5 linked regions of the Homo sapiens genome follow. The protein of the gene in region 1 purifies or fractionates together with the protein of each later gene. This does not show direct contact. Each region holds a gene or a part of one and is shown in the gene's direction. Other genes may lie near its edges. The genes, in order: TXLNG, WIPF2, CDV3, USP3 and ZC3H11A.

Evidence for each region.
Region 2: the proteins of TXLNG (region 1) and WIPF2 fractionate together in Homo sapiens (co-fractionation; one large-scale study listed by BioGRID). This does not show direct contact.
Region 3: the proteins of TXLNG (region 1) and CDV3 fractionate together in Homo sapiens (co-fractionation; one large-scale study listed by BioGRID). This does not show direct contact.
Region 4: the proteins of TXLNG (region 1) and USP3 fractionate together in Homo sapiens (co-fractionation; one large-scale study listed by BioGRID). This does not show direct contact.
Region 5: the proteins of TXLNG (region 1) and ZC3H11A fractionate together in Homo sapiens (co-fractionation; one large-scale study listed by BioGRID). This does not show direct contact.

The regions. Positions count from the first base shown.
Region 1 is NC_000023.11:16,835,735-16,841,742, forward strand, and holds part of TXLNG (gamma-taxilin), read left to right. Parts: exon of another isoform or gene 1-1,858; coding exon 1,859-1,951; exon of another isoform or gene 1,952-3,126; intron 3,127-3,548; exon of another isoform or gene 3,549-4,086; coding exon 4,087-4,182; intron 4,183-4,710; coding exon of another isoform or gene 4,711-4,785; exon of another isoform or gene 4,786-4,828; intron 4,829-5,693; coding exon 5,694-6,008. UniProt on the Homo sapiens protein: May be involved in intracellular vesicle traffic. Inhibits ATF4-mediated transcription, possibly by dimerizing with ATF4 to form inactive dimers that cannot bind DNA. May be involved in regulating bone mass density through an ATF4-dependent pathway.
Region 2 is NC_000017.11:40,277,986-40,283,882, forward strand, and holds part of WIPF2 (WAS/WASL-interacting protein family member 2), read left to right. Parts: intron 1-199; coding exon 200-240; 3' UTR 241-5,897. UniProt on the Homo sapiens protein: Plays an active role in the formation of cell surface protrusions downstream of activated PDGFB receptors. Plays an important role in actin-microspike formation through cooperation with WASL.
Region 3 is NC_000003.12:133,582,572-133,588,802, forward strand, and holds part of CDV3 (protein CDV3 homolog), read left to right. Parts: intron 1-1,430; coding exon 1,431-1,579; intron 1,580-3,991; coding exon 3,992-4,151; intron 4,152-4,587; coding exon of another isoform or gene 4,588-4,603; exon of another isoform or gene 4,604-5,324; coding exon 5,325-5,475; 3' UTR 5,476-5,781; coding exon of another isoform or gene 5,782-5,788; 3' UTR 5,789-6,231.
Region 4 is NC_000015.10:63,586,539-63,592,769, forward strand, and holds part of USP3 (ubiquitin carboxyl-terminal hydrolase 3), read left to right. Parts: intron 1-1,171; exon of another isoform or gene 1,172-1,766; coding exon 1,767-1,885; exon of another isoform or gene 1,886-2,163; coding exon 2,164-2,277; exon of another isoform or gene 2,278-2,405; coding exon 2,406-2,473; exon of another isoform or gene 2,474-2,562; intron 2,563-4,122; coding exon 4,123-4,288; 3' UTR 4,289-6,231. UniProt on the Homo sapiens protein: Deubiquitinase that plays a role in several cellular processes including transcriptional regulation, cell cycle progression or innate immunity.
Region 5 is NC_000001.11:203,798,355-203,804,585, forward strand, and holds part of ZC3H11A (zinc finger CCCH domain-containing protein 11A), read left to right. Parts: coding exon of another isoform or gene 1-2,108; exon of another isoform or gene 2,109-3,220; 5' UTR 3,221-3,739; coding exon of another isoform or gene 3,740-3,838; 5' UTR 3,839-4,662; intron 4,663-6,231. Other genes in the region: ZBED6 (zinc finger BED domain-containing protein 6), read left to right, coding at 1-2,108; uncharacterized LOC128031836, read left to right, coding at 3,740-3,838. UniProt on the Homo sapiens protein: Through its association with TREX complex components, may participate in the export and post-transcriptional coordination of selected mRNA transcripts, including those required to maintain the metabolic processes in embryonic cells.

The DNA.
Region 1 (6,008 bases):
GTTTTCCTCTAAATGTGGCTGTCCTTCCCAAGCATGTCTCACCTTCTCTGCCCTCACCATGTCATTTCCCAGCATCTGCTGGTGTAACTCAAAGTCTTTGTGCTGTCTTCACCCGCTGTTTTGTAATCTAGCCATGGAGGTCCATGTGTGATAATAGTGGCCACTTATTGGCTACCCACTGGGCCAGCACTGAACTCTCACATGGGACAGTCTTTATTTGGATGTTCCATTTTCAATAAAAGTGGACTGTGCCTGCGAGGCGCAGTGGCTCATGCCTGTAATCCTAGCCAAGGCGGGCGGATCGCTTGAGCTTAGGAGTTTGAGACCAGCCTGAGCAACATGGTGAAACCCCATCTCTATAAAAGATACAAAAATTAGCCAGGTGTGGTGGTGTGTGCCTACAGTCCCCTCTATTCAGGAGGCTGAGATGGGAGGATTGCTTGAGCCCAAGAGGGAGGTCGAGGCTGCAATGAGCCGTGATTGCGCCACTGCACTCCAGCCTGAGCGACAGAGTGAGACCCTAAAGGACCACATCAAAACTGCTGTAACTTCTAATGTCCCTCAGGCACTAATACTGCTCCCTCCCTCTGCGTGAGCACCACTCTTGCCCCAACTCCAGGCCTGTCATGTCAGAGGCCCCGTCAGTGTCTGCTAACAAATCCTGTGTGTTCTCCAGGTCACCCTGCATTTCTCTTCCTGCTTTGTCCTCATCCCAGGCCAGGCCCTTGTGCAGATGTGGCTTGGCCATCTCACAGGGACCTCGTCTAGCCTAACAAGCACAAGGTCACTGTGAGATGACTAACTTTCAGTTGGCTTCTGCGTCCACCACACCACAGTGCGTGCTGCTTAAGTGCTTCCGGGATGGCCCGTCCCCCTGCTGGCTGTGGCTGGGCGGGCACCATCATATTCCACCCTGCCCTGCATCCTGTGCGCTAGGTGGTGCTGGTGAATATTCTGCATCCAGCACTGCTTATGCTGTTTCTTGGCCTCTGAAGATCCTTTATTCTTCTCTGCTTTTCTTATATCTATCGTGTGATCTTGCCCAAAATACTTTATTCCTCTGGGTCTCTCTCTGTTCCCCTATCCTGAAAATAATGTGATTATGTTGGATAGTCTCTGAAAGGTTCCCTCCTGGTCTAAGATGAACTCATTCAGCTCACCTATGAGGGCCAGCTCAGGCCTCCCACATGAAGCTTCCCCTAAGTATCCTGAGCCTCAGTGTGCCCTTCCCCGTATACTTCTCTGGACTCCTTTCTAAGGGGGAGAAGATGGTGACTCCATTTTATATTTTGCTTGCCTTGTTGGTTAGCATTTTTCCCTCATCCTTAAATAAAAATTCCTTGAGGGTAGGACTATGTTAAGAGTAGATCTCTTTACGTTTTCTTTTAATTTTACTCTCACCGAATTCTTCTTCCCCAACCAAACCAATTCTTTGGCTTCTGTTGCATTTTCCTCCCTTCGTTAAGGAAAGAGATACCATTGCTATCAAACTAAGAACTCTGCAGGTGGTATTCTAAAGGAATGATCTTTTCCCAAGGACAGTTTTCACTTGGCAGGAGAGGGGTAGTTGGGCGAGCACTCCACATGCATGACGTTTATAGTCACCACATCCTTCAGGCTGTGTTATGACCAATGGGTGGAGATCTAATATTAAAGTCAACAGAATGTCCTCAGTTTTAATGCATTTCTGTGGGTTGTCAGAACTTTAGCCATCTATGTCTGGTGTCCAAGGATTGGATGTGCATTTGTTCGTATTTCTATCACTTGTAATAAGTAACCATACTACGTTCTTTTGAAAGTTTGGGAACTGGAATTGTTTGCATGGAACTCAGAATGTTTCATACTTTTTTTCCTATAGCTTTCTCTTTATATGGATAAGTTTGAAGAATTCCAGACTACCATGGCAAAAAGCAATGAACTGTTTACAACCTTCAGACAGGAAATGGAAAAGGTATTTACATATTTTTAGTAGAATAGTATATCAAATGGAATTTGTATAAGCTCTTTTAAGTGTGATTACTATTTTGCTGAGTTTCCTTTGTTATGATACTGTCTTCATTTTCTCTTTAGTGATCCTCCAGTGGCATTTTTGGTCATTTTGCCCTCAATGTACCCCAAGTAGCTAATGTTCTCTATGCTCTTAGAATTCTACCTTTATTATAGTGAAATCCTATATTAAATGCAACTTGTTAGAAATAAAGTGGTGGTTTTTTTGGTGTGTTGCTGTTTTTTGTTTGTTTTAACCACTTTAGAGGATCATCCTCAGCCCTCTCATAAAACTCTGTGTCCTTGGAGATTAACTATTGAAAGACATCCAAGCCCAGAATAATAATCATATATTTTGGTTGGTTGATATATCAGTGTTTCTACCTTTTTTAGCTTCTCTGTTTTTCTTATCTTTACTCCCACTGAATTCTTTCTCCCCTGACCCAACCAATTCTTTTGCTTCTGTTGCATTTTCCTGCCTATGTTAAGGAAAGAGATATCCTTGAGATCAAGCTAAGGACCAAAGTATATAATTCTATGCATATCCAGCCAGCCAGCCAGCCTTATTTTACTTGGCATCCTTCCCTTAAAAATGGGGGATTTAAAAACATAGCGTTGGGTTGGGGAGAAGTACAGTAGTGCCTGGCACTTTGTTAGCATTCAGTAGATGTTAGTCATGACTATTATTAGATCTCACATAGTGGTGGAGACCGTGCGCCCTGGGTTAATGTCCCAGTTGCATCATAGAACGTGTGACTATGGACAAATTGTTAAACCTTTCTGTTCCTTCACTGTTAAAATTGGTAACAAAAACCTGCCCTTCATGAAATAGAGTATTTCAGACAGTGCTTGGCACATTAACATGTACTCAGTTACCATGTGGCTGATTGGTGCTCAAATTACCACCTCCAGGTATTTTTAGACCTGGTAATCTGGAGAATTCCATGAGCAGCAGATTCGTTCTGCCTGCCAGTCCTTTCAGTTGAGGCTGCAATTGAGGGGGCGCTGTTAGGCACAGTGCAGGTGATAGCTGGACGCCAGCACAGACTCACTGTTGAGGTGGAACAGAGAGTTCCCGCCTCCTGGATCTGCCATCCTTCTGGTCCTCTGGGACTGGAACACATTCCTCTCTGTCCGTGGCTGCAGAGATCACCATGGGTCAGCAGTCAACCTAGGTCTTCCACCAGCTCTTCCCATGGCCTTTGTCCCGGTTTGCCTTGTGTTACAGTTTTGTGGGTAATTACCCAAGGCACAGGGCACTGGCTCTGTCTTATCCTTGTTTCCCTTAACACCACCTGGCTCAATGCCCCGACCTGGATCAGAGCTGGTGTGCAGTCAACAGTAGATGAAGGCATATTGAGAAAGTAGCTAGCTACAGGCATGGATAAATGCATCCTGAATTTCTGAAAATTGTGTTCTGGTAGCATAGGTTTAACACTTCCCTGATTTGGGGACCCACTTTATCTTTAGCAAAATCTGAAGTAAATCAGCCTCACGAATTGTGAGGATGACCAAAGCTGAGGTATTAACTACTTTTATCTTCTTGGTCACTGGAGTCTTACCTGAATCATGCTGCCTTGAGTTCTGAAACTGATGTGTTCTTGGAGGTTGTGGTGGAGTGTCAGTTCTTAATGTCTTGTGGGGCTGAAGATCGCTGTCCTCCCAAGAATCTGAGGAATTCGTTTAATGGACAGAAAACTCAGTCATGGGCATTTTTTCATACAACTTAGGGAGAAGGAGGGCTTGTCTCTCGCTACCCGGAGCTGGGATGAAAGCTGCACTTCAGCCTTAACTGAGTTCAGAGTGTGGTGGCTGACAGCTTCCTCCATGTGCTGCTGCCTCTGAAATTGAGGAGATTAAATTTGTTTTTCTCATAATACAAACCCCCTTCTTTGGTTCCACCCTAGGAGCTTCTGAGATAAGCTCTGCTACCGACAGGCAGGCACAGCTACTTCTATAAAGACACACACAGCTGTCAGCTGGGTGAGGGAGGTGCAGGGATGGGGGAGGGGAGGGGCACAGAAACATTTTTGTGTACTGGGACAGGGAGTAGAGATAAGGAAGGGAACTTAGAATTTAAATGTGCAATTGTATTCACAGATGACAAAGAAAATTAAAAAACTGGAAAAAGAAACAATAATTTGGCGTACCAAATGGGAAAACAATAATAAAGCACTTCTGCAAATGGCTGAAGAGGTGAGATGGTTTCCTGCGACTAAGGTGTAGTCTTAGTCATGGGGACTCCTTGAGTTCAGGTACCTATCGGGGCCGGGGACGTGTGCTGTAACACTACTACCATAGTTGAGGACTCCAGCCCGCGTTGGGGCGGGGGTGGGGATGAGTTGCTGGGTAGAATCTGTGACTTCTTTCCTGGCAGTTAGGTTAGGGACAGGGCCCTGAGTGAGGGGCTGAGCTTCCTACCACCCAGTTAATCAGCCCAGGCTTGTGTCGGAGATAGCATAAAACATCTAGATTTTGCTTTCTTCTACAGCAGTGATTTCTCAAACTTGAGCTTGCATCAGACGCCTGCTTGTTAAGACCAGGATTGCTGGGCTTCTCCCAGAGGCTGAGTCACTAGTTCTTGGGGGCGGAGGCAGATAATCCGCCTCTCTAACAAGCATGCAGGTGATGCTGATGCAGCATGTAGGGCCTTTCTAGCTTGACTTATTAGGCTTTCAAAAAAAGCAACAAAGTACGTTTTGCCTGTTTTATATAACACTTCAGGAAAGAAAGAAAACGCTGGGGCACATGTGTACAAGAACCTTGTTCTCGGCTGGGCACAGTGGCTCACGCCTGTAATCCCAGCACTTTGGGAGGCCGACGCAGGCGGATCATGAGGTCAAGAGATCGAGACCAGCCTGGCCAACATCGTGAAACCCCGTCTCTACTAAAAATACAAAAATCAGCTGGGCGTAGTGGCACGTGCCTGTAGTCCCAGCTACCCAGGAGGCTGAGGCAGGAGAATTGCTTGAACCTGGGAGGCGGAGGTTGCAGTGAGCTGAGATTGCACCACTGCACTCCAGCCCGGGCGACAGAGCGAGACTGTCTCAAAAAAAACAACAAACTTCTCATCTAAAAATTGGAAGAGGAGAAATCTATGTAGAAGTGAGTCATTTTCTGTATGTAGGCCTTTGTGTCTGCTACTCTTTGTCATATCTTGAATTTCCTTAATAGTTCAATAGGAAATGTCTTAAAAAGTTTATCTTTGGCTCACGCCTGTAATCCCAGCGCTTCGGGAGGCCAAGGCGGGCAGATCACGAGGTCAGGAAATCAAGACCATCCTGGCCAACATGGTGAAACTCCATCTCTACTAAAAATACAAAAATTAGCTGGGCGTGGTGGGGCGCGCCTGTAGTCCCAGTTACTCGGGATGCTGAGGCAGGAGAATCACCTCAACCCAGGAGGCAGAGGTTGCAGTGAGCCGAGATCACGCCATTGCACTCCAGCCTGGCAACAGAGCAAGACTCTGTCTCAAAAAAAAAAAAAGTGACAAAAGGAATTTAATTTTGTCCCCCTGAAACAATATGCTAAATCTCATTCGGTATAGTTATGGGTGCAGTCATGCTAGCTAGCTAGAATGTTAGGAGGCTGAAGAGACGGAACATGTTCCATAGGTGAGAAGTGTCCAATATGGCTGAGCTGGCTTAATTTTTTTGTAACCTGATTGATATTTAACAGGGTTACAGAAATCCTCTTTTTTCTTACAGAAAACAGTCCGTGATAAAGAGTACAAGGCCCTTCAAATAAAACTGGAACGGTTAGAGAAGCTGTGCAGGGCTCTTCAGACAGAAAGGAATGAGCTCAATGAGAAGGTGGAAGTCCTGAAAGAGCAGGTATCCATCAAAGCGGCCATCAAAGCGGCGAACAGGGATTTAGCAACACCTGTGATGCAGCCCTGTACTGCCCTGGATTCTCACAAGGAGCTGAACACTTCCTCGAAAAGAGCCCTGGGAGCGCACCTGGAGGCTGAGCCCAAGAGTCAGAGAAGCGCTGTGCAAAAGCCCCCGTCCACAGGCTCTGCT
Region 2 (5,897 bases), on another chromosome or scaffold:
AAAGTGCTGGGATTACAGGCGTGAGCCACCTTGCCTGGCCACTCATCTTCATTTTCTTAGGCAAAACAATAATAACACGTAGTCCCCAGATTTTAAAGGTTAGCTTAAAGAGCCTGTCTCTCATTTTAGGAATGTGTGGGTTGTTCAGATTCTGGTGGGTGACCTGTATGTGTGTGGTCTTTATTTTGTTTTTTTTCAGCTGCCCGTGGAGCCCCACCTCTGCCACCCATTCTCAGGTGAAGCCTGGCTTGGTCCCGTTCCTCAGGAAAAGGATGGACCTTCTCTTCTTCTCAGATGGTCCCTTCCATTCCCCTGAAACCTGCATGAGAGCTCCTAACATGTTTCTCCAATGCAATCAAGCCCTAGACTCCAAATGTCCTCCCAGCTCACCTCCATCTATGCATCTCATCTCTGGATTTGGTGATCAGACTCTATATTGACAGTAGGATCTCAAACCCTGCATCCATCCTTCCTCCAGCAAGCCCTGCTAGCCACATGAGGAACAAGTTTCCGTGTCTTCTGCCTTCCTCTTGGGGAAAGGTGCCTTGTTGTGATGAATTAACTCACTGTTAGGGCAGGGTGGAGAATGGTACTCCTTCCTTCTCCTGTCCACTGTGGGGGAAGCTTGGCAGGTATATTATATTTCATCATTTAGGAGGCTGGCATGACCAGGACTTATGGGTGGGAGGGGAGCATTTTTAGTGAAGCAAGAAAGGAGTTTGCCAAGAAGTGATCTGTTTTAAAGGTCATATTTGGAGAAAGGGCAAGGAATTGGGTCTGCTTTATTTTTGGGGGTATTTTGTTTTTGTTCTCACCTGCTGCCCCCCCACCCCACCACCCCAGGGATAAATTGGATATAAACACTAAATACTAATCAGTTGAACTTAACATTTAATAAAAAGAAAGGGTGAAATAAACTGAAGACCATTTTAGAACTAGTCAGTTCTCTGCAGCAAAGGGAACAGGAGCCATTTGAACCCTCTGGGACCCCTCACCCCACTGCTTCAGGGTGCTAGGCTGAGGGATGTTTTTCCTCCCCCTTACCGCCCATGCCCTTGAAAGAAAAGTCACTTTTTGTGGAGGGCATCATTCATTCCTGATTCACAAACCCCAAAAACCTCTGGTGGGAGATAGGAAGATAGGGCGTGGGCCTGGGCCTTAACCTCAATCTTGTGTCTGCCTCAGTCTTTTCTGACTGGCCCTGAAGTTGTCAGTGGCTCTTTCTGTCCTTCAGCCCCTGGAAGGTGCTCCAGGATAACAAAGAAGGGCAGGTTGAAGCCCCTCATGGAAGGAGCTGGCTTTGTGGGGCTGCAAAGGACTTTTAAGTCCTGCCTGTACTGAAGTTCACAGCCCACCTGACTGAGCAGACTCTTCCTGTTCCTTTCTCTACCACCCTTGCCTTCCCAGGACTGCACGGTTTAACACAGCAGAGTACAGAAGGGTGAAGAAGTGAGCAGAGGCTTATGAAGATATTCAGATACTCTTCTATGCCAGGAAGCACAAAGACTTTGTTGAGATTTGCCTCAGTTCAGTAGATCTTCCTTGGCAGCCAGCCATAGGTTGTTTCTTTGTCTTCCGGGTCCTAAAGAGCACAGAGAAAATGGAGGTCCCCAGTCTAGGTAGGAAGCTGATTGGATGAGGACTTCTTTTTTTCCGACAGCAGGATGGGGCTCTTGGGCTCCACACACCAGATGCTTTGGTTTTCTACAACTGTTGCTATGTGTAGAGGGTGCTCAGAGCGTGGCATGAGAGCAAGGAGACCATGGCTACTCTTTGAAATGGATGGGGAAAATTAGCTTAAAAATTTAATCACGAGATTGCGCCACTGCACTCCAGCCTGGGCGACAGAGCCAGACTCCGTCTCAAAAAAAAAAAAAAAAAAAAAATTTAATCACACACATCACAGGCTTAAACTGTCTTAGAGACCTTTCCAGTTGATTGGATCACAGGCTAGGGATCTGTGCATGGTGCCAGGTGAAACCCAAGTCTCCCCAGTGCTAGGTGAGGGAGGGCTCAACGGGGGTAATGTGTATGGGGTCTGCTGTCCTTTGCCATCCCCTGGACCATATTAACTCTGGGACAGACCATGATTAGGTCTGTCACCAAACTTTTCCTAATCATTTTTTATGTATCATTCTTCTTTCTAATCTGTTAGCAGTTATCTCCCAGAAGTATCCCTAGCATCCTGAAGCAAACAGAACTGCCGGGCGCTGTGGCTTATGCCTGTAATCTCAGCAATTTGGGAGGCCGAGGCGGGCGGATCACCTGAGGTCAGAAGTTCGAGACCAGCCTGTCCAACATGGTGAAACCCCGTCTCCACTAAAAACACAAAAATTATCTGGGCGTGGTGGCATGTGCCTGTAGTCCCAGCTACTGGGGAGGCTGAGGCAGGAGAATCGCTTGAATCCAGGAGGTGGAGGTTGCAGTGAGTGGAGATGGCGCCACTGCGCTCCAGCCCGGGTGACAGAGTGAAACTCCATCTCAGAAAACAAACAAACCAAACAACTGAGAGAGGGCATGCTAGTGGAGGGAAAAGGAGAGAGTACAAGAGTTGATACTGCATCAGAGTTCCAGGGCAGATACTGACAAGTGACTGAACTTTGACTGTGAAGTCTTCCCATTTATTTTTGAAATGGGAGTCGATGCCTTTTGTACGTTATCAAAGTGTTTTTTTTTTTTTCCTCCTTTACTCAGACATAGAGCATCAAAATATCACGAGTAAAGCCAAACCCCAGCTTTTCACTGGGGCTGATATCTTCCTCCCCATGGCCCACTGCCCCCTCATATTCCCCAGCACTTGGACTGTGTCACATGGGTATTGATTGTATACTTGTTGTCTTGGCCTCATGCAAAAAGGCCTGGGTCTAGATCTAGTCAGATGAGTTTTTTTTAGAGCATGTTGATGATACAACACCTGTTTAAATGTCTGCCTTATATGTTATTTGGTCCCACTGTTAATAATAGATTTATTACTATGTATATTTACTATTGAAGATGGGAATGTGATCTGCATAGTTATCAGTCTATTTTGTATGTTGTAAAAAGCTTCTAATTTAGGTTTAAGGTGGGCTGGCTACAAGAGCACTAAAACTCCTCACCTTTTAAACTGCTCTTTTTATCTGCTTGTGGGAATGTCGTCTCTTTCGTGGAAGATTGGGTGGTCTCATGTTGAGGCTGTTGCCCAGTCCCATTAACTCCCTTGTCCCCCCACAGAAGGAAGAGACATTGCCCAGCTAAGCATCAGGAAGCTGTGTTAAAAGCCCTTCTATGGGTTTGGTTTTGTGATGTTTTTCCCTAATGGGAAAAACGTTATAGTTGTTTCTTACTGCCCTGTCTGGGAAGCAGGGCAAACCTCCAGGTTTTTAAATGAGCTAGATGCCCCTCTTCCTCTTCTCTGGTCACTGAACCTGGACCAAAGCACTTTGATATTCCAGGTGTGATTTTCTCTGTCATGGGGATTTGCTCCACTGCAGAGCCCCATCATTTTCACAGCGTAGGCCAACAGAGTGAGAACCTAGGGCTACCCTAGCTGATGGATGTGAGGCTGCTGTCTACAGGAGCTCATCCCAGCCCTGTTAACTGGCAGTGGCAAGGATACTCGTCATCGGCCATTGCACTGGGGAACTCCCTCACCCCATGGCTTCCCAACTTGAAACCCAGATTTACCTCCAGGGAGAGGTGAGAAAAAAATTGTAAATAGACTTGCTAAAGAGCAACTCAGGGTTGGGGTGTGTTTTAATTCTCCTGATCACTTGAAATAATCTGTAGGCTGAGTGCTTATGGGGGTGGGGGAGAAGGGTGACTCCAGGGTCCTTCCATTTTGTGAAGCTCTGGGGGTGGAGTGTGGGCATCTGAGGCCCTATGATGGCACTACATTGAGCTGTCTGCCCTTCCGGAAACCCAACCTGCAATCAACTGCAAATCAAATTCTTCACATTCCAGCTACAGTCTTTCTTTCCCCATTGAATCTCAGTCCCTGGCCATGTGGTCAAGGTGGCTTTCTGTTAAGCTACCCTAATTTCGGGAATGGGAGGGGAGAGAGGAGGGCCATTACAACTCTGCCTTCAAGACTCATCTCTTAAAAACAAAACGAAACAAAACTACAACCACCATCAAAACCACACGCAAAAAAAAAAAAAAAAAAAAAAAGGATAACTTTAACCGAAGGAAGGGTTTGGTTCCATTCAACTCCACATTCATTGTGCCTTTACTTGCATTAGATTTCTGTGCTTTCTTCCTTTCCCTCTTTGAAGCAATTAAAATCTTCCTTGATAACTGCTGTTTCTTTCTACTCTTGTTTCTGGCAATTTAGTGGGTTCCTTCTCTAGTGGTCTTAAATCTCATTCCACTGGTGGCAAGATGGGGCCTAGCCTTCTTTTCACATGTCTAATCTTTTCCTTTCTCATGGTGCCCTCCATGGAAGTCACAGTCAACACTGAATAAATGACTAGAATGACACGTGTGCGTGCGCACGCGTGTGCGTGTGTGTGTTCATCTGTCTGCATGTGGATCAATTTCTTTTAGAAAATAATTTATTGTATGATTTATTTTGGAGTTATATTCTGATTACAGTGCTCCCTCTCCCAAATAGCATTGATTTTTTCCCCCCTCTAAAATGTATAATCTGGTCTCAGGTTGGATTCTTTGGTACATTTCTCTCTTCTGGATGCCATGCAGCTTAATTAAAACCTTGCTTAAAAACAAAAAGTGAAAATTGTGTACTCTTGTCTGGAATACCGCCTCAGGTGGTGGCACAGAGAGGGGAGAAAACCTTTGCCTCATAATTTGGGTAAGTGTAGTGGTTTGATTCCAGGTCCCTTGAAAAAGTAGATCTACTGAATTGGGCAGACTCATCTATAGCTTTCTGAGGGTCTTCTCTCCTCCTCTCCAGCTGTATTTTGAAAATTACAGTTCTAGTTGGCTGGGCGCGATGGCTCATGTCTGTAATCCCAGCACTTTGGGAGGCCAAGGCGGGTGGATCATTTGAGGTCAGGAGTTCAAGACCAGCTTGGCCAACATGGTGAAACCCCGTCTCTACTGAAAATACAAAAATTAACCGGTGTCATGGCGCATGCCTGTAGTCCCAGCTACTCGGGAGGCCGAGGCAGGAAAATCACTTGAACCCAGGAGGCGGAGGTTGCACTGAGCTGAGATCATGCCACTGCACTAAAAAAAAAAAAAAAAAAAAAAAAAAAAAAAAAAAAAAATTCTAGAGTTCTAGTTACCCTTCCTGGGAGATTCTGATGGTCCTTATTTTATTATTATTATTATTTTTTTTTGAGACAGGATGTTGCTGTCATCCAGGCTGGAGTGCAGTGGTGTGATCATAGCTCACCGCAGCCTCCAACTCTCAAGCTCAAGTGATCCTCCCACCTCAGCCTCCCGTGTAGCTGGGACCACAGGTGTGTACCACTATGCCTGGCTAATTTTGAAAATTTTTTTGTAAAGACAGGGTCTCCCTATGTTGCCCAGACTGGTCTCAAATTCCTGGGCTTAAGTGATTGTCCCACCTCAGCTTCTCAAAGTGCTGGGATTACAGGCATGAGCCACCGCACCCAGCCAGTCCTTATTTTATATTTCCACCTAACTCCCCTTTGCCCACGATTTCAGGGAACCTAGGAGGCTTCCTGGCCTTGTGACCTTTTCCTTGAATCTCTTATAATTCTTTCTACCTGTGTTGCATGGCAGATTCTCAGATTGAGGCTAAAGAAAAGAAGGGTGGGGACAAAGCATACAGAATGTGTGTATCTGTTTTTATGTGGGTGTTGGCTGTTTTTCGTCACTGCTTTTTAAGCTGAATCTTAGCTGGTTTTCTTGAACTTTGACTTTAGGTGTAAAAATTCAACCAGACATTCTCTCCTTACTGTGGTCAGCTGACATCATAACCACTAAGGCTT
Region 3 (6,231 bases), on another chromosome or scaffold:
ATGGAAGGAAAGCATCCTTAGATATCCTTTTGCAGAAGCCAAGAGAGGCTGTGATGTTCCTAAGGTTATACAGTTAAGAGAGTCAGGGTGATGAGTAGAAGGCAAGGGACAGAGTTTTGGGAACCAGCCTTTTTTTTATAGGAAGGTGGGGAAAAGGTAGAATGGTGAAGGAGTTGAGAAGCTTGAAGACCTAGGAAAAGCCACCATTGTCATGAAAAATAATTTTATGAAAATGTTGGTAGTTTCTGCCAGGTGTATCTTCGAGGTGAAGAGTTGCAAAAAGGACGTTCGATTTAGCCATTATTGTGCTTTAATATCCCTGTTGTCAGTATCCCTTTTGTCAAGAGACAAAAGATAAATACACTTGGTAATTTAGGACATGTAAAGTTACACAAAATAATAAAAAGTAATCCAGCAAAAAGAGAAATAATCAAAGATGCCTTGGAGAAATAGATTATGACTCAAGTCAATTCAAGAATAAATTAATTAGCATTGAGAAAATACTGCAAGCAGTCTTAAGATGGTATGTTACCACTGAGGGTATCTTTTCCATTTATAACATCTGGAAAGCCAAAGACTGAGATCTTATATATTTTTTTTAAACAGGTGATAAATACATGTCTGGTGTTAGGGGCTAATTCTATCCTCTGTAAACACTGGACACAGACTTGTTTTCATCTGCTGGAATGTGAATTCTAATTCTGAGAGTATTTTATGTGCGAAAGGATTGGCAAATAAAATTATACAACTTTCAAAACTCTTCATTTGCTCACTAAAAATATGCTTACCTTAAATGCCTGTTTGTACACTTTGGTGCAAGGAAAATTTTGTAATTGTGCTCTTAATCCTTCAGCTCACCTTCTTCTCTGCATTTCAGGTTGTATCATCCTCTCTTCCCTCCCTTAGTCGCTTGAGGTGGTAACTGGGGTCTTGCTCTTATGTGGGGCTGCTATAAATGATCAGGCATATTGTCACAGAGGCACATCAGGTTTTTTTTATTTTTATTTTTTTGAGACAGTCACGCTCTGTCGCCCAGGAGGGAGTGCAGTGGCACGATCTCAGCTCACTGCAGCCTCTGCCTTCCGGGTTCAAGGGATTCTCCTGCCTCAGCTTCCCCAGTAGCTGGCATTGTAGGTGTGTGCCCCCATGCCTGGCTCATTTTTGTATTTTTAGTACAGATGGGTTTCGCCATGTTGCCCAGCCTGGTCTTGAACACCTGACCTCAGGTGGTGCACCCATCTTGGCCTCCCAAAGTCCTGGGATTACAGGTGTGAGCCACTGTACCTGGCCTCACTTTTTAAATAAGACGTTCAGTCTCGAAAGAGATTGACTTCTTCAGGGTCGTACAGATAATCATGGATAAAACTAACGATTTGGACTGAAAATTTTCTTGGTGATTCCTTAATGAATTTACATCTTTGCTTTTCCAGCAGTGAAAAGGAAGAAGACGATAATGAAAAGAGACAAGATCCAGGTGATAACTGGGAAGAAGGTGGAGGTGGTGGTGGAGGTATGGAAAAATCTTCAGGTCCCTGGAATAAAACAGCTCCAGTACAAGCACCTCCTGCTCCAGTAATTGGTAATTTTACTATTTCAGTTTCAGAAAGATGTCTAATTTATATATGATTTTATATATGGTCCACTTTCAACTAAGTGCATGATTGTGGTAGGGTGAGGAGGAGAGGCTCCTTTCCATTCCTGGTAGAGTGGGATGTGTATATATCTTGTTAAAGACTTTAAAATCCTAAATAAAAGGAATCTGGAAGTTAAAAGACATGCTTTTGTCCTGTATGTTGCTGTAAAATTTATATAGATATAGACTAGTCGATTCCAGTTTCATTTATTGGAATTGAGCATTTCTTCTAATATTCTCGTTAAATATTAACTACTTGCTAATGGAGGAAAAGGTAAGGAAAAGACTTTAATTTACTAGAATCCAAGGTCAGCTTCATTTAGGATTTTTAGTGGTAACTACCCTAGGGTTGGGTTTAACTCCAAAAGTTTTCATGAGAGAGAAAATTCCTAAAGCTTTTATCATTTAAAATATTTTTGACAGCTGAGTAAAGACAGAAAGACAAGGGGCCCTTGTCTTTCACTTGTGCTTTGTCTTTTTCATTCCCTATTTAACTTTCCTGTTCTTTGAAGCATGAATTCTCAGCAGGGCCAATTTTATCATTCTCAAGGTGGTAAAAGTTGCTTCTTATGGAATGAAGGAATCTTATACCTTAACAGTCATTTGTGGCCCACGAAAAGACTAGAATGCATAAACAGATGTATAGTATATCGCAGTATTAAAATTTCATGGAGTGGGGGGCAGTTAGGAAACAGATGTCTGAAAGGTCTCCTTAGGGCAATAATGAAAGTTTAAGAGCACTACTTTAAAGAAGTGTATACTCATTATTTTATTTAGAATGTTATAAAGAATAACATATCACTCCAAATCTTGTTATGCAGAAATCACAGATAACTACTCTATGTTAAATTTTTATTTTTATATTTTTTAGAGACAGGGTTTCACTCTGGCCCAGGCTGGAGAGCAGTCATGCAATCATGGCTCATTGCAGCCCCTCAACTGCTTGGGCTCAAGTGATCCTCCCACCCCAGCCTTCCAAGTAGACTACCGGGGCATGCCACCTGTTTATTTTATTGTAGAGATGAGATCTTAACTATGTTGCCCAGGCTAGTCTTCAACTCCTGGGTTCAAGCAATCCTCCCACCTTAGCTTCCCAAAGTGCTGGGATTGCAGGTGTGAGTCACCACACCCGGTCTTATGTTTTTAAATCATCTTTAGAATCTTTTTGTTTTGTTTGTTTTGTTTGAGACAGAGTCTGGCTCCTGACTTCAAGTGATCTGCCCGCCTCGGCCTCCCAAAGTGCTGGGATTACAGGCGTGAGCCATTGTGCCTGGCTAGAATCTTTTTTTCTTTTTCTTTTTTTTTTTTAAGACAAAGTCTCACTCTCTTGCCCAGGCTGGAGTGCAGTGGCACAATCTTGGGTCACTGCAACCTCCGCCTCCCGGGTTCAAGCTATTCTCCTGCCTCAGCCTCCCAAGTAGCTGGGATTACAGGCGTGCACCACCATGCCCCGCTACATCTTTGTATTTTTAGTAGAGACGGGGTTTCACCATTTTGGCCAGGCTGGTTTTGAACTGCTGACCTCAGGTGATCTGCCTGCCTCGGGCTTCCCGAAGTGCTAGGATTACAGGCTTGAGCCACTGCACCCAGCCCTGGCTAGAATCTTAAAAAATAACCACACTGGCATTTCATTAAAAAATTCTTTACATATGGCATCTTAATCAGTCCACCAATCAGGTAAAGAAGTAATTCATATTTACTGGTAGGGAAACAGGACTAAAGTCCTATTCTGAGAGGCAGTCCCTGATGAGACCAGTCATCCAAGCCCAGCAGATTCCTTTTCTACTTCCAGTAATTTGGCTTGTGGAACTCATCATTTACGTAGATTACTAAAGTTGTACGTGGAGGAGGAGTTAGAATACTACCCTAGAAAAATACAATGTTTTCACTTTTCTTTTTTCTTTTTTGAGAGCCGGAGTCTCCTTCTGTTGCCCAGGCTGGAGTGCAGTGGCTCAATATCGGCTCACTGCAACCTCTGCCTCCTAGGTTCAAGCCATTCTCCTGCCTCAGCCCCCTGAGTAGCTGGGATTACAGGTGCCTGCCATCATGCCCAGCTAAGTTTTGTATTTTTAGTAGAGACAGGGTTTCATCATGTTGGCCCAGCTGGTCTTGAACTCCTGACCCCAGGTGATCCACCCACCTCGGCCTCCCAAAGTGCTGGGATTACAGGCGTGAGCCACCACGCCCAGCCTGTTTTCACTTTCAGACATTTTCTGAAATGAATTCCCTTCTGTGGTCTGACCCAGAGACCCTGGTATTGTTTTTTCTATAATTGTTAAATGATTGGGAATGCAAGAATAGCTTATTAAAATGCTGAGCATTTAAATAGTTTATCTAAAAATTGTTATAAAATATTAGTTACAGAAACCCCAGAACCAGCGATGACTAGTGGTGTGTATAGGCCTCCTGGGGCCAGGTTAACCACAACAAGGAAAACACCACAAGGACCACCAGAAATCTACAGTGATACACAGTTCCCATCCCTGCAGTCAACTGCCAAGCATGTAGAAAGCCGGAAGTAAGTACTATAATTAATTGCATTTTGTTTGGGACTTCTGTTCCTAGGCCAGGGAGTGGGATATAGGGGATGTGCATACCCACCCAAGGGAGAGACTACTCCTTAACTAATAAAGCCTGAGCTTCAGCTGACAGGCAGGTGAGAATCAGGGTGGGACTTCATATGTCCAGAAGGGAGGAAAGGGGGAGGGCAAAGAGCATTGGAGACACTTTGTCTTCTGTCTGCAAAAGTTTATCTTAGCCCTGGTTTATGTTGTTTTATAGCAATGACAAGTTTTAATGTAGTTAAAATTCTTTTATAATTAAGTGGCTTTTGCTCCTTATAATATGGAAACTAGAAATATAAAAGCGCTGTTTAATTGTATTCCCAGTTAATGTGACTATAGACAGAAGATGTTGGCATTTATAAATCTAATATTAAAATAATCTTATTTCAGCAGGTACTTAAAATGAATGCTACCTGGAATTAAATGACTACATATGGCACATCTACATCTTACTTTAGGGACATGAATTTTTTAAAATAAATAAAATGGGAAGAAATGTAAATGACATCAGATGGAAATGTGTTTTTTGGGGTGGCTTTTAGAATAAATCCCAGCCTTTTCACCACTTTGAGAGCACAGCTGGCTTGAATTTAAACCTCCACGTGGACTTGCTCCTCTGCTCTGTCTTAAAAAATGTGTAAGGGACCTTGGGAGGGCAGTGATTCACCACACTCGAGTTTCTTTACCTGATCTAATCAGATCCACTCCCACAAAATCGATGTGAGGAGAAATCATTGACTAATGAGTAGAATTTACTTGAATGAGAAAATTGTTACCCTTGTGCATAAAGAGAGAGATGTATTATCTATTACTTGCTAAAAGTAAGAGTCTTAGGAGGAATGTCATTACACAGCTTTTAACAGTTTTCTTCAAGTTTGTCCTGAAATAGGGTCACAGTTAATACTGTTCAGTAGAAGATAGGACCCTAGAGCTTCAATACAGCGTTCTGTGTTTTCTGTTTGAATTGAAGCCTTAAAATGGTTTGATAAGGATTTTCTATATGCCTCCACTCCTACCCCTCCCCAGGATTCTTCTAAGGGGTGGCTTTTTTTTAAATTCAAGGACGAATATTTTCAAAAACCCTAGTGAAGAAGAAATATTTACTGATTACATTTCTTTTCCCTTAGGGATAAAGAAATGGAGAAGAGCTTTGAAGTAGTAAGACACAAAAATAGAGGTAGGGATGAGGTTTCAAAAAACCAGGCCCTTAAACTTCAGCTAGACAACCAATATGCTGTGCTTGAAAATCAGAAAAGCAGCCACTCACAATACAATTAAGGAATGGGCTTTGCTAACCCTTCTGAGGTAACTAGACTGCAGCTAACCACCACCAACAGCCATTCATCATCTGATCTCTGCTGGATCTACAGACACCGATGCAGACCACTCGATTTCATGACCGGCCCTATTGCACTATGGAAGTTAAAGTGTCACGACTGCTCTATGCATATTGGATTTAGGGGAATTTTCATTGTTACATAAATGTGTGAACTAGTTTCAACAGTGTTCTTTCATATTTACTCTGCAAATACAAAAAACCAAAACCTGCAGCCAGTGGTCATTTCAAAATCTTTTTATGTTCAGATACTGAGCCTTCATAAGGGTTGACTACCTCAGATTTGCTGCACTCATTGTGGACTTCATGTGGATCACAACTTCTGGATAAGAAGATTACAACTATTAAGTGTCGATGTGAACCTTGCAACCAGCTCTACTGGATTCTTATCAGAAATCCTGCATAAAAAGTCAGCCATCTGGGTTCTGATCTGCTGTAAAAGATGAAGATTTAAGTGACCTTAATTAACCTGTCCTGTGCCCTACCCTTAAGGAATACTCTCTGTAGTAGGCTGTTGTTATATTAGACTTCCTGGAACACACTGCTGAAAAGAACTGATGTGTTCAGATCATCTGTGTAGGGCTGTGATTTGTAATTTAAACTAATTGTATTCTGAGGTAACCACAAAATAAATTCAACCAAACTGGGGTCCACCAAGTGGGGGAAGGGGAAGGGAGAGAATAATCTTGGGGGTTTTT
Region 4 (6,231 bases), on another chromosome or scaffold:
GTCTGAAGGGATTATTAGTGCCAGCCAGCCAGTCTGCTGTGTAGTCAGTGCTCTTTCTTTGTAGCCAGAGATGTAGGACTTGGGAGGCTCCTGAGAACAGCATCACTCTATTTGCAAGTTTGGTTGTAATGTCTGAGACTTGCTTCAGGAATTGTAATGTCAAAATATAATACATCCTTTCCCAGGAACCATCACTGACATAAAATAGCAGGTTGAGCAGGTTGGCAATGTAGTATTTGTGGGAAATTGAGGAAAGAATGGTTAACTGTCCACTGGAGGTTGAGAAAGTCTCAAAGAAGTGAGAATTGAATTGAGTTGCAGGGAGGCGAGAATTGAGTTGTAGGGAGGCAGGCATAGGAATGTGCCTTCTAGGTACTAGGATCAGGCAACAAAGGCATATTCAAGACTGTCTAGTCCTCTGCCACACCTTGCCTCCACTAACTTTCCCTGAAGGGGCGCTGTCTGCTACTGTCGCGGACACAAAGGCTGACTATGGCTTGGAAACTTGAGTACAGAGACAAGAGCGCTTTTCTGTACACAGCTAGGTTTCTGCTTGCTACCCAACTTTAATATATTATTTAAAGATACATACATGTTCTATAAAGACAAATGACATAAAAGTCAGGATAATGGCTACTTCTGGGCAGAGGAAGGGGAATTATCTTTGGTAAGAAGCACATGGCCACACAGGTTGTCCACTGCACAACTCTAGGAGAGGCCGTGCACAGAGACCCTGGCTCCTTGAGTACTCGAGAAAATCCAAGTGTGGGGTCCATAGGCATTCATATTTTTTCTACAGAATAACGTGTATTTTATATAGATTTATGAATATCTGATTGCATCAGGAATTGGCACAGGGGCCAAAGAGTAAATACAGTAAGTCTTCATTTAATGTCATCAGTAGGTTCTTGGAAACTGCAAGTTTAAAGCAAAATGACATACAGCAGGTCCTCCAATAATAGTTTCCTTTAACGTTTAGTTATAACATTGATGAGAAAAAAGTGGTTTATCGTTGCTTCACATAAGGTCACAATTTTCAAGAACCTGTCATGATATTAAGTGAAGATTTACAGTGTTTTAGGCTTTGCACCACATAAGGTCTCTGCCCCAGTGACTCAGTTTGGTGTAGTGTAAAAGCAGCCAGACAATAATGTAAACAAGTGGGCATGGCTCTGTTCCAATGAAACTTTATTTACAAAACCAGGTGGCTGGCTGGATGTTTTAGGACTGTAGTTTACTAAACCCCAGGTTACACAATTACATCTTTAAATGAAAAAAAATGTAGCTGTGATTTATCTAGGAACTGAGAGTACAGCGTCTGGACAGAGAAGGTTGATAGTGTAGCCTTCTGTGATCTATGTTTATTTTTAAATTATCTAAATTTGACTTTTTTTTATGAGTTTGGAGCTTTGTCCTGTATAATGTAACATATTGACAGAAAACTACAATTGAAACTTTAAATTCATCAGGAAACCATTTTATCAGAATTATCCAGATGAATTATCATTAATAGTAAAACCAACACAATTGATCATCACCAGATGTCAGGCATGATGCCAGGTGCTCTACACATTATTTCTCTTCCTTATAATAGTTCTTCAAAGTAGGTATTATTTTTTGTCTCCAGTTTGCAATTGAGAAAGGTTAACTTTTCTAAGGTCGTATAGCTAATAAAGCTGAGATTTTAAACCTGGGTCTTTTTTCTACAGTACATTGCCTCTACAAAAGGCATCTTGTTTTAATGCTGCCAAAATCAATTTGTTTAGATTGTCTTCGCAGTTTTACCGACTTAGAAGAACTTGATGAGACAGAGTTATATATGTGCCATAAATGCAAAAAGAAACAAAAGTCCACAAAAAAGTTTTGGATTCAAAAACTACCCAAGGTGAGTGTTGAATTTTGAGTTATGAAGCAATTTCAATGGGAAAGTGCTTGACTGCTAAGACCATGTCTATAACTTTACACTATGTGAACTGTTCTGTATTTTTCTCTAGGATTTTCAGTAAAAGCTAAACCCCTTACAGAATGAATGCATAAGGTATGCATGGAAGAATGATTGATAGGGCAGCTAAAATGTTATTTACTGAACTGATAGTAGTATCAAACTTTGACTGAAAGGTAAATTAGGTGTTCACAATCTTTGACCGCATCTCTGTCCTCCAGGTGCTATGCTTACATTTGAAAAGATTTCATTGGACAGCATATTTAAGAAATAAAGTTGATACATACGTAGAATTTCCACTGAGAGGCCTAGACATGAAATGCTACTTACTAGAGGTAAGGTGGTTACCTTTTTAGCATGGTGAAAAAATGGCTCTTCAGTAAGATTGTCATCACATGGAGAGGGTAGAGGTCATCGAGATACTGATGTCATTGACCACTGCTCCTTCTTCCTTGTTCTGTAGCCTGAGAACAGTGGCCCGGAGAGCTGCCTGTATGACCTCGCCGCTGTGGTGGTGCACCATGGTTCCGGGTGAGTACAACAGCCAGCTTCTGGTGGGTGGGAATACCTGGTGGCCAGCCCAATGACCTGCAGTTTTGTACCACTCTTGCTAGTTCTTCCTAAAAAATGGATTCAGATAAAGTAGGTGAAATTTCCTTCAGTTTTGGTGCGGAAGAGTACTCCTCAGATGATGTTGTGAAGGCTTAAGGGAAGGTAAATAAAAGTGAAATGAAGAATGGTTCATTTGAACCCAGTATTTACGACCCAGTCTTTATTTGTCCACAAACTCCAAAGTTGCTTATTCGTTTACCAACTGAAATTTAAATGGGGCAAAAGGGGAAATTACTTGGAATAACTTACTCCATATCATCTACTTTAAAGACTCATTTTAAGTCTTGTTAAAAAACATTAATTTTTTCCCCTGAAAGTTTGTATGAGGGGTCTAACCTTCTGGTTTTTGGTTTGAGAGTGGCTATTTTACCTTCAAACTTAAGACTACTATATGTGGGCAGACGACTATCCATGTTGAAAATCCTTTTCCCGCAGAGCTGTGATAAAGTAACGTCTACACTCACATAGTGTTATGAATGACAAGTCTGATTCTCACTACTTTACAGGCACCTGGCTTTTTTCTCCTTGGAGTGTATTCCTGCTTGGTAGTTGGTAGGGACACTTTTAATTTGGTGCCTTCAGCTCATGAAACTCTCTATACTGTAGGTCTGAAATCATTTGTTCTCTGTACCCCTATTATATGCATAGTGAATTTCCTGGATCTCCCTTCCACATGTCTTAAATACTCTAATGATTTCTGTCTGTGTTTCTAAAGACTGCCATGGCCTACTTTTCCAAATCACCAATTTGGGTTTCATCTGTATCCAAATAAAAGATAAGCTCCTCCATAAAATATTTATATTAAATCAGTCACATTTTTCTGACAACTTTTTCGTAACAGCCTATTCTTGTTTTATGATTGCACTATCTTTTTGAAACTATTAGCACTAATTTAAAAATGTAAAGTTCTCTTAGGTTTTCTGCATTCAATTCCTCAGGGTTGATTGCCTTGCTTGTTCTTCCCGGTATTTCTTTCCCCTCAAAAATGTGATTTTGTAGGCGTGCAAAAGGCTTGTTTTTAAAATTTGGTTTTGGTGGTTTATTTGGAATCATAGTAAATGATGAGATGGATCTTTATTATTTAAATAGGGTTTTCCTGGCACCTACAAAGGTCTGTTCTAGCTGCAGGCCTTCCGTCTGACTTGGAGGACTGACTCCAGGGTTGTGTGTGTGAGTGGGTGGGTCATGCTGATAGGGTAGAGCCCCTGATGACCACGGTGTCAGGGAAGGGTGCCCTTCTTTGTTAAGCTTAGTTTTTTCCTAAGATTCTGATGGGAAAACCTGGTACCTAGTTTTCCATGTTTCCGTAGGCTTTGACCTGTGCTTGTTAGGTTGCGAGTTCCTCATCTCTGTTTTCTCCATTAGTCCAGGGCCATCTGCTTTGTGTTCTAGCAAACCCTCGATTTCTGGTCAGTTTGGAGGAAGGTAAAAACATTAATTTAACAAGCATCTTAAATCAAAAGTCTAGGATGTATTCTTATTAAAATTTAAATCTAACATTATATAGTTGTACAGGTCTTTTTGTGATTTCTGAGGTTCTTTTTTCCTTTGGTCTTTTGCCTTTACAGGGTTGGTTCTGGACATTACACAGCATACGCAACTCACGAAGGCCGCTGGTTCCACTTCAATGACAGTACTGTAACACTGACTGACGAGGAGACTGTGGTGAAGGCGAAGGCCTACATCCTTTTCTACGTGGAACACCAGGCCAAAGCTGGATCGGATAAACTTTAATACCTCCTCCAAATCATCATTCACCAACCATACCAGAGAAACATTTCCAGTTTTCCACAAATACTTGATACAAGATTTAATTTCATTATGCACTTTTCAATTTCCTATTTTGGATTTAGTTTTGTCAATGGTAGTGACTTACTGAACATGGGCACCAACTAATTTTGTTGTTGTTCTACCAGAAAACCTCAGCAGATGTTTTGATTTGCTGCTTTAGTTGTAATAATTCAATTTTTATAGGTAGTTGTAAGAACTTAGTCTTATTTGACTTTTTTATTTTATGTTAATGTTTTCAGTTCTCACTTTGAGGCACATTTACATCAATGCTTTTGTTCCTCTCACATGCTGAAAGCAAGATGTGTTCCTTATTGTGAAGAGCGACACAACTGCCTGCTGCCTTTCCACAGCTATAATGGACATCAGGTTGACTCTAAATCAAGGATCATGTGTGCACAATACTTGTGGCCCACAAAATTTCACAATGACTGCTGAGGAATCATTCTTTTTGCCTGTAAAATATAACAAAGGGCATCATTAAGTAGACCAGGTAATTACTGCTTGTCTCTCAAGGCTGCTGTCTTTATCAGCACTAACTAAATAAATTTGTTGGTTCAGTTGTACTTGTCCTGCAAATACAAGAATTACTCTCTTTGTTGGTTTTTTTGGTTTTGGGGCATACTTGTTTGCGGGGAGGTAAGATGGGAGTAAAGACCAAATACATGTAATGTTTAAAAAAAATGCTGTGACTCACTGACATGGTATAGGTGTTACCAGTGAGGTAAAGCCATGGCGTCTGCCTCCTTTTGAATCAGTATCTCATTCCCCCTTAGTTGTACCACTGGAAGTCACGACATGTCCATTATAGACTTACTTACTGCTTGTGTTTGGCATCTGAGTCTGAGGTGTGACCCTCTGGGATTTACTTGGATCATCACCCGCACTTCAGTTTATCACTGGGGGGTGTGCTTCCACAGGAGGAAATTTAGAATCTTCGCTGCTCTGGGTTTTAACACCTCTCTCTGGCCTATCCTGATTGATAGGACAAGTTGAAAATACTGTTGGAGTAAGTAAGTGGAGTTTTCGTTTTGTTTTTTGGGGGTTTTTGGAGACAAGAGTCTCTCTCTGTTGCCCAGGCTGGAGTGCAGTGGCACGATCTCAGCTCATTGCAACCTCGGCCTCCCGAGTAGCAATTCTCCTGCCTCAACCTCCTGAGTAGCTGGGATTACAGGTGCCCACCACTACACCTGGCTAATTTTTTTTTTGTATTTTTAGTAAAGACGGGGGTTTACCATGTTGGCTAGGGTGGTCTCAACCTCCCTCCTGACCTCAGGTGATCCGCCTGCCTCAGCCTCCCAAAGTGCTGAGATTACAGGCGTGAGCCATCACGCCCAGACAGTTTTGTTTTTAAAAAACAGATTTAACTCAAAGATTCAAATTTGGAACCAGAATCCCATTTAAAGAAAGCAGTTGTGGTTTCTACAAGTGTTCTAAGACAGTCCTGTGGTGGTTTTTTTTTTTTCTTTTTTTTGGTTGGGGGCGGTGGGGGTTGGTAGACATAGCCTACCAATTCTCCACAAGGGACAAAATGTATCTTGTGTTAAGCCAACGAGACTTTCTGGCAATTTTTTTTTTTTTTTTTTAATGGAGTCTTACTCTGTCCCTCAGGCTGGAGTGCAGTGTGGCATGATCACAGCTCACTGTAGCCTCAACCTCCCAGGCTCAAGCGATCCTCCCACTTCAGCCTCGAAGTAGCTGGCACCACCACACCCAGCTAATTTTTAATATTTTTACTAGAGATGGGGTTTCACCACGTTGCCCAGGCTGGTCTTGCACTCCTGGGCTCAAGTGATCCACCCACCTTGGCTTCCCAAGGTGCTAGCATTACAGGCATGAGCCACCACGCCCAGCCTGTTCTATTAAAAACATCTTGACCTTTTTTTTTT
Region 5 (6,231 bases), on another chromosome or scaffold:
AGCACATCTCAAGAGCTGTGTGTAATATATGTAAAAGAAGTGTGAGCCGGGGTAGGCCAGGGTCCCACTTAGGGACTTCAACACTTCAACGACACCTGCAAGCCACACATCCTATCCATTGGGCTGTTGCCAACAAAGACAGTGGTGCTGTTGCAAATGGATTAGATGAAGCTGAGACTGAGAGAAGTGATCTCTTGAGTGATACCTTGCATGGAGAAAAGTCTACAGGCAGCCAAGATTTAACAGCTGAGGACCTTAGTGACTCTGATTCAGATGAACCTATGTTAGAGGTTGAAAACAGATCTGAAAGTCCTATTCCCGTTGCAGAGCAAGGCACTCTGATGCGTGCGCAGGAGAGAGAAACAACATGTTGTGGAAATCCAGTCTCAAGTCACATAAGTCAGGCAATTATCCAAATGATTGTGGAGGATATGCATCCTTACAACTATTTCTCAACCCCAGCCTTTCAGAGGTTCATGCAGATTGTGGCCCCTGATTATAGGTTGCCATCAGAGACTTACTTTTTCACTAAGGCTGTACCTCAGTTATATGATTGTGTCAGAGAAAAAATTTTCTTAACTTTAGAGAATGTTCAAAGCCAAAAGATACACCTGACTGTTGACATATGGACCCATGACCCATCCACTGACTATTTTATTGTGACTGTACACTGGGTTTCTTTGGAAACTGCGTCTTTTCTCAATAATGGCAGGATCCCCGATTTTAGAAAGTGGGCAGTGCTTTGTGTTACAGGTTTGGCTAAAGACTGTTTGATAACCAATATTTTACAAGAATTAAATGACCAGATTGGTCTGTGGCTTTCTCCAAATTTCCTTATCCCTAGCTTCATTGTTTCTGACAATTCCTCTAATGTGGTACATGCAATCAAAGATGGTGGTTTTACCCATGTGCCATGCTTCCTGCATTGTTTAAATATGGTCATTCAGGACTTTTTCTGCGAGCACAAAAGCATTGAGAATATGTTAGTGGCTGCCAGGAAAACTTGTCATCATTTTAGTCATTCGGTCAAGGCCCGTCAGATACTGCAAGAGTTCCAAAATGATCACCAACTTCCATGGAAGAATTTGAAGCAGGACGAAACTGGCCATTGGATTTCTACTTTTTATATGTTAAAATGGCTCTTGGAGCATTGCTACTCAGTTCACCATAGTCTTGGTAGAGCCAGTGGAGTTGTGCTCACCTCCCTTCAGTGGACTCTAATGACTTATGTTTGTGATATTCTTAAGCCATTTGAGGAGGCTACCCAGAAAGTGAGCGTGAAGACCGCAGGATTGAATCAGGTGCTACCCCTAATCCATCATCTACTCCTTTCCCTGCAGAAACTCAGAGAAGATTTTCAAGTCAGAGGTATTACTCAGGCCCTCAATCTGGTGGATAGTTTATCTCTGAAACTTGAAACAGATACCCTACTAAGTGCCATGCTTAAATCCAAGCCCTGTATCTTGGCTACTTTGTTAGATCCTTGCTTTAAAAACAGTTTGGAAGACTTTTTTCCTCAAGGTGCTGATTTAGAAACTTATAAGCAGTTCCTTGCAGAAGAGGTCTGTAATTATATGGAATCTTCACCAGAGATCTGCCAAATTCCAACTTCAGAAGCTTCTTGTCCCTCAGTTACAGTGGGAGCTGATTCATTTACCTCATCTCTAAAAGAAGGCACCTCCAGTTCAGGTTCTGTTGATAGCTCAGCTGTAGACAATGTTGCCCTTGGAAGCAAAAGCTTCATGTTCCCTTCTGCTGTAGCAGTTGTGGATGAGTACTTCAAAGAGAAGTATTCAGAGTTCTCAGGAGGTGATGACCCTTTAATTTACTGGCAGAGGAAGATAAGCATATGGCCGGCTTTGACCCAGGTTGCCATCCAGTATCTAAGTTGCCCCATGTGTAGTTGGCAATCTGAATGTATCTTTACTAAAAATAGCCACTTTCATCCAAAACAGATCATGAGCCTGGACTTTGACAATATAGAACAACTGATGTTTCTGAAAATGAACTTGAAAAATGTTAACTACGATTATTCTACGTTGGTTCTGAGCTGGGATCCTGAGCAGAATGAAGTTGTTCAAAGCAGTGAAAAAGAAATACTGCCTTAATTTCTTTTTCTCCATTTAAAATGGGCAACTTTTTGCTGTGTTACTGTATCTTAATAGCTGTAGTTGTTAAATATAATCATTATCTTTATAAACACATCTGGGGAAACCTGAAATCACACAAGGGCTGAAAATTCCTCAGAGGCAATATAATTTTGATAAAATGAAGATTAAAGATTTCATAGCTATAACTGTGGCGCTAGCACTTGAAAATTTTGCTTATACCAATGAGAGAGAAGATATTTTTAATTAAAAAAAATATAGTGCAGCATTGAAAGGCCTTAGGCTTTCTTCCTGGTAGATTGAACTAGTAATTGGTTTTAAGTAAAACTTCCCCCACCATGGGAAATTTTATTGCTCTGAAATCAACGAAATGAGAAAAAAGTACACTGGCTGGCATTCCTCCTGCCCCTGTTTTTCTGTTTCCTTAAAAACCCTGATGCTTAATTACAACTTGGCAAAAAGAAAACCCGTGAAATTGTTTTATATTTGGAAATTTCTAATTGCCTCCTCATACTGGTCAGCTTTATAATTTCAAATTGTTGAGTGTGATAGTGTTACCCTTTAGAATTGGATCTTATATAAAAGGGAAATATTAGAAAACAATTAGGAAAATATACTTTTAGTCTTTGAAATGCCTGTTTTAACCTTTATAAAATATTATAAAAATAGATTGTGTAGGTACTTTCAAATAATTTATGGGTAAAAACAGACTAAAATGTTTGCAAGAATTGGAAAAGGTTGAATGGGAATTGTAATGAGAGCCCTTTGAACATGCTTGGAAAAACCCAGTAGACATTTCCCAAAGATTGTTTCTGTAATTTTAGGTAATCTTTTTAAAAACATACTTAATGACCCATTATACTGTATTAACTGTGCGGTTGTTTTGGCCACTGAATTCTTAATGAAAACTAAGCAGTCGGTATTTTTATGTGTTAGGAATCATTGGTGAAATGAGTGAATTGATCTCATTTTAAGATCCCTTTCTACTCTGAAAGTATGTTTCTGAGATTGAGTAGGAGGCCAGAAAATGATGACTTTTAGTAAAAGTCTATTAAAAGTTTCAGACTGAATAACTAATGTGAGATCCCAATTTTTCCTTTTTTTCATTTTAGATTTGGGGATATTCCCTGCCCAAAAAATTCCTGGAAAATTGACTAGTATTAAGTGTGAGTAAAAGGTGTCCACTTTTTTTTAAGTTTTGATTTTAGTTTTGTCTTGGATAGTATTTGGCAAGATTTAGCCTAGAAATTATGTAGTATTTATTACATAAGAATCAAAATTGCTTTGTTACTGGGCTGGTTTCAAAGTTTAGAACTCATTTCTATGTATCAAAATCGGGTTTTTTTTGGTTTTGATTTTTTTTTTTTTTAAATTCTTAAATGGTAAATATGCCATTGTGAAATGAAATCTCAACTCCAAAAGTTTACCCTTTTACTAACTGGAGTAAATGTATACTTACAAAGTCTTTAGCTGTAGCCATTAGTAGTAAAGAATTTGGACCTAGGCTGCGTAAGCAAGCCTTTCCAGGGCCACTATTTAATGGCAAACCAGTGATACTGGTGTTGATACAAAATAAGAAATAAATTTTCCCTTAGATAAAGCTTTCTGTGTTTTGACAGTGCCAGTTTAGAATGGCTATAATGCTGCTCTGCCTTCTACAGCTTGCTGCACCACTCTGTAGTTACTCTATTACCATACGTTTCTATCTTTTTTGGTTAAACACTCCCTGATGACGATGATGGATATATATACATACATCCATATTATACATAATGATATATGTGTAAGGATTTACCTTCGTCTTTATTTTGTGGGCTGGGCAAAATTTAGTGTAACAATAACTTCATGATACTTTGGTATAAGAGTAAGTTCTTTATTTTTATAATGAACCCAAATCTAAAGTCTTTTATAGTGCATTTTAAAAGGGGAAACTTATCCAAATGTTATATTTCTATACATTTTTGTGTATATGTGTGTGTGTATAAGCCAGTTAGTATATATCTGTATGTATATTATATACATAAAACACTATATTTTTACATACAAGTATGCTTTTATTATACAGATAATAAAGATGGGGGAAGGTTTCTGTTTTTTTCTTAATAGGTGAAGAAATCTTGAAGACCAGAAATTGGATCTTACTGAAAAACTGATGTTTTTTTGTTTTTTTTTTAAATTATATTGTTCAGCTATGGAAGATGGAGTTTTTTTTCATGATCCTTTAACTCTCAAGTTCATCTTTAAATGAACTCTTTTTTTTTGTTTTTTTTTTGTTTTGTTTTGTTTTGTTTTTGAGGAGATAACTAACCCTAGCTGTCTCCAGTCTGACAAAGGTTATTTGAATGGACTTAATCTCCCAGTAGTTGGGAGATGTTTTAAAAACACATGCTGTGTTTGAATTGTGGCTGAGAGGTTTTCTTGGCAATGTGAGGAGGAAATTTTTTTCTGCCTCATTATTATTAATTCATGGATTGAGTGTTGGTTCGACCTACAGGCGTAATAGATTGGAACTCAGTGAAGACACAGATGTTCCTGTTCAGAGCAACCAGCTAATGTAAGTGGGGAAGCAGGCATTTTTCGCATGAAAGGAGTGAACATTCTTGTCATTTAAGGCATAATTTTCATGGATCAGTAAGAAATTAAAAGGCCATTGTTCAGACATTTTTGCTTGTACATAATTGTTTACAAATTTTTAGTTTTGGGATGGAAACATATTTTTTTCTTTCTTTTCTTTTTTTCTTTTTTGGAGACGGAGTTTTACTCTTGTCCCCTAGGCTGGAGTGCAATGGTGCCATCTTGGCTCACTGCAACCTCCTCCTCCCAGGTTCAAGCAGTTCTCCTGCCTCAGCCTCCTGGGTAGCTGGGATTACAGATGTGCACCACTACACCGGATAATTTTTGTATTATTAGTGGAGATGAAGTTTCACCATCTTGGCCAGGCTGGTCTGGAATTCCTGACCTCAGGTGATCCACCAGCCTCAGCCTCCCAAAGTGCTGGGATTACAGGCATGAGCCACCGCCTCTGGCCCATAGTTTTTCTTTCTTTGTTTTGATAATATATGTACATTGTAAAAAAGGTAAAAACAGCATAGCCAAAGTGAAATCTTCCTGTAATTCCATCTCCTTGGAGAAAAGCACTGGGTTATTTTGTTTCGTTTTGAAACAGGGTCTTGTGCTCTGTCACTGAGGCTGGAGTGCAGTGGCATGATCATAGCTCACTGCAACGTCAAACCCCTGGGCTTAAGAGATCCTATTGCCGAAGCCTCCTGAGTAGCTGGAACTACAGGTGTGCCCCACTGTACCTGGCTACTTTTTAAAACCTTTTGTAGAGATGGAGTTGCTCTGTGTTGCCCAGGCTGTTCTCAAACTCCTGGGTTCAAGCAGTCTTCCTGCCTTGGCCAACCAGTGTTGGGATTACAGGTGTGAGCCACCATGCCTGGCCTCCCATTCCTTTTTAAATAATGATTCTAGATGATTTTATAATCAAGTTCCAGTAATAAACTCTAATTGGGATTTTGACTTGAATTACATTCGATGTGTGCATTATTTTTTGGGGAGAAGTAATTTCTTTAATCCTCTATTTATTCATTATCCAGGTCTTCTGTGCCTTAGTAGTTTCATAGTGTTTTGGTTTTGTTTTTAATTTAATGTGGGTCTTGCATACTTCTTCATTTTCTTCCTGTATATGTGTTTTTTTTTTTTTTTTTGAGACAGAGTCTCGCTCTGTCGCCCAGGCTGGAGTGCAGTGGCGTGATCTCGATTCACTGCAAACTCCGCCTCCCGGGTTCACGCCATTCTCCTGCCTCAGCCTCCCGAGTAGCTGGGACTACAGGCACCCGCCACCTCGCCTGGCTAACTTTTTTGTATTTTTAGTAGAGACGGGGTTTCACCGTGTTAGACAGGATGGTCTCCATCTCCTGACCTCGTGATCCGCCCGCCTCGGCCTCCCAAAGTGCTAGGATTACAAGCATGAGCCACCACGCCCGGCCCTTCCTGTATATCTTTTTATTGTGAATGGTCTCTTCCTGTATATCTTTTTACTGTGAGTGGTACTCTGCCATCATCTGAATGATTATTGCTGGTATGAAGGAAATTTACTGCTTCTTGTAGATCTTACATTTTT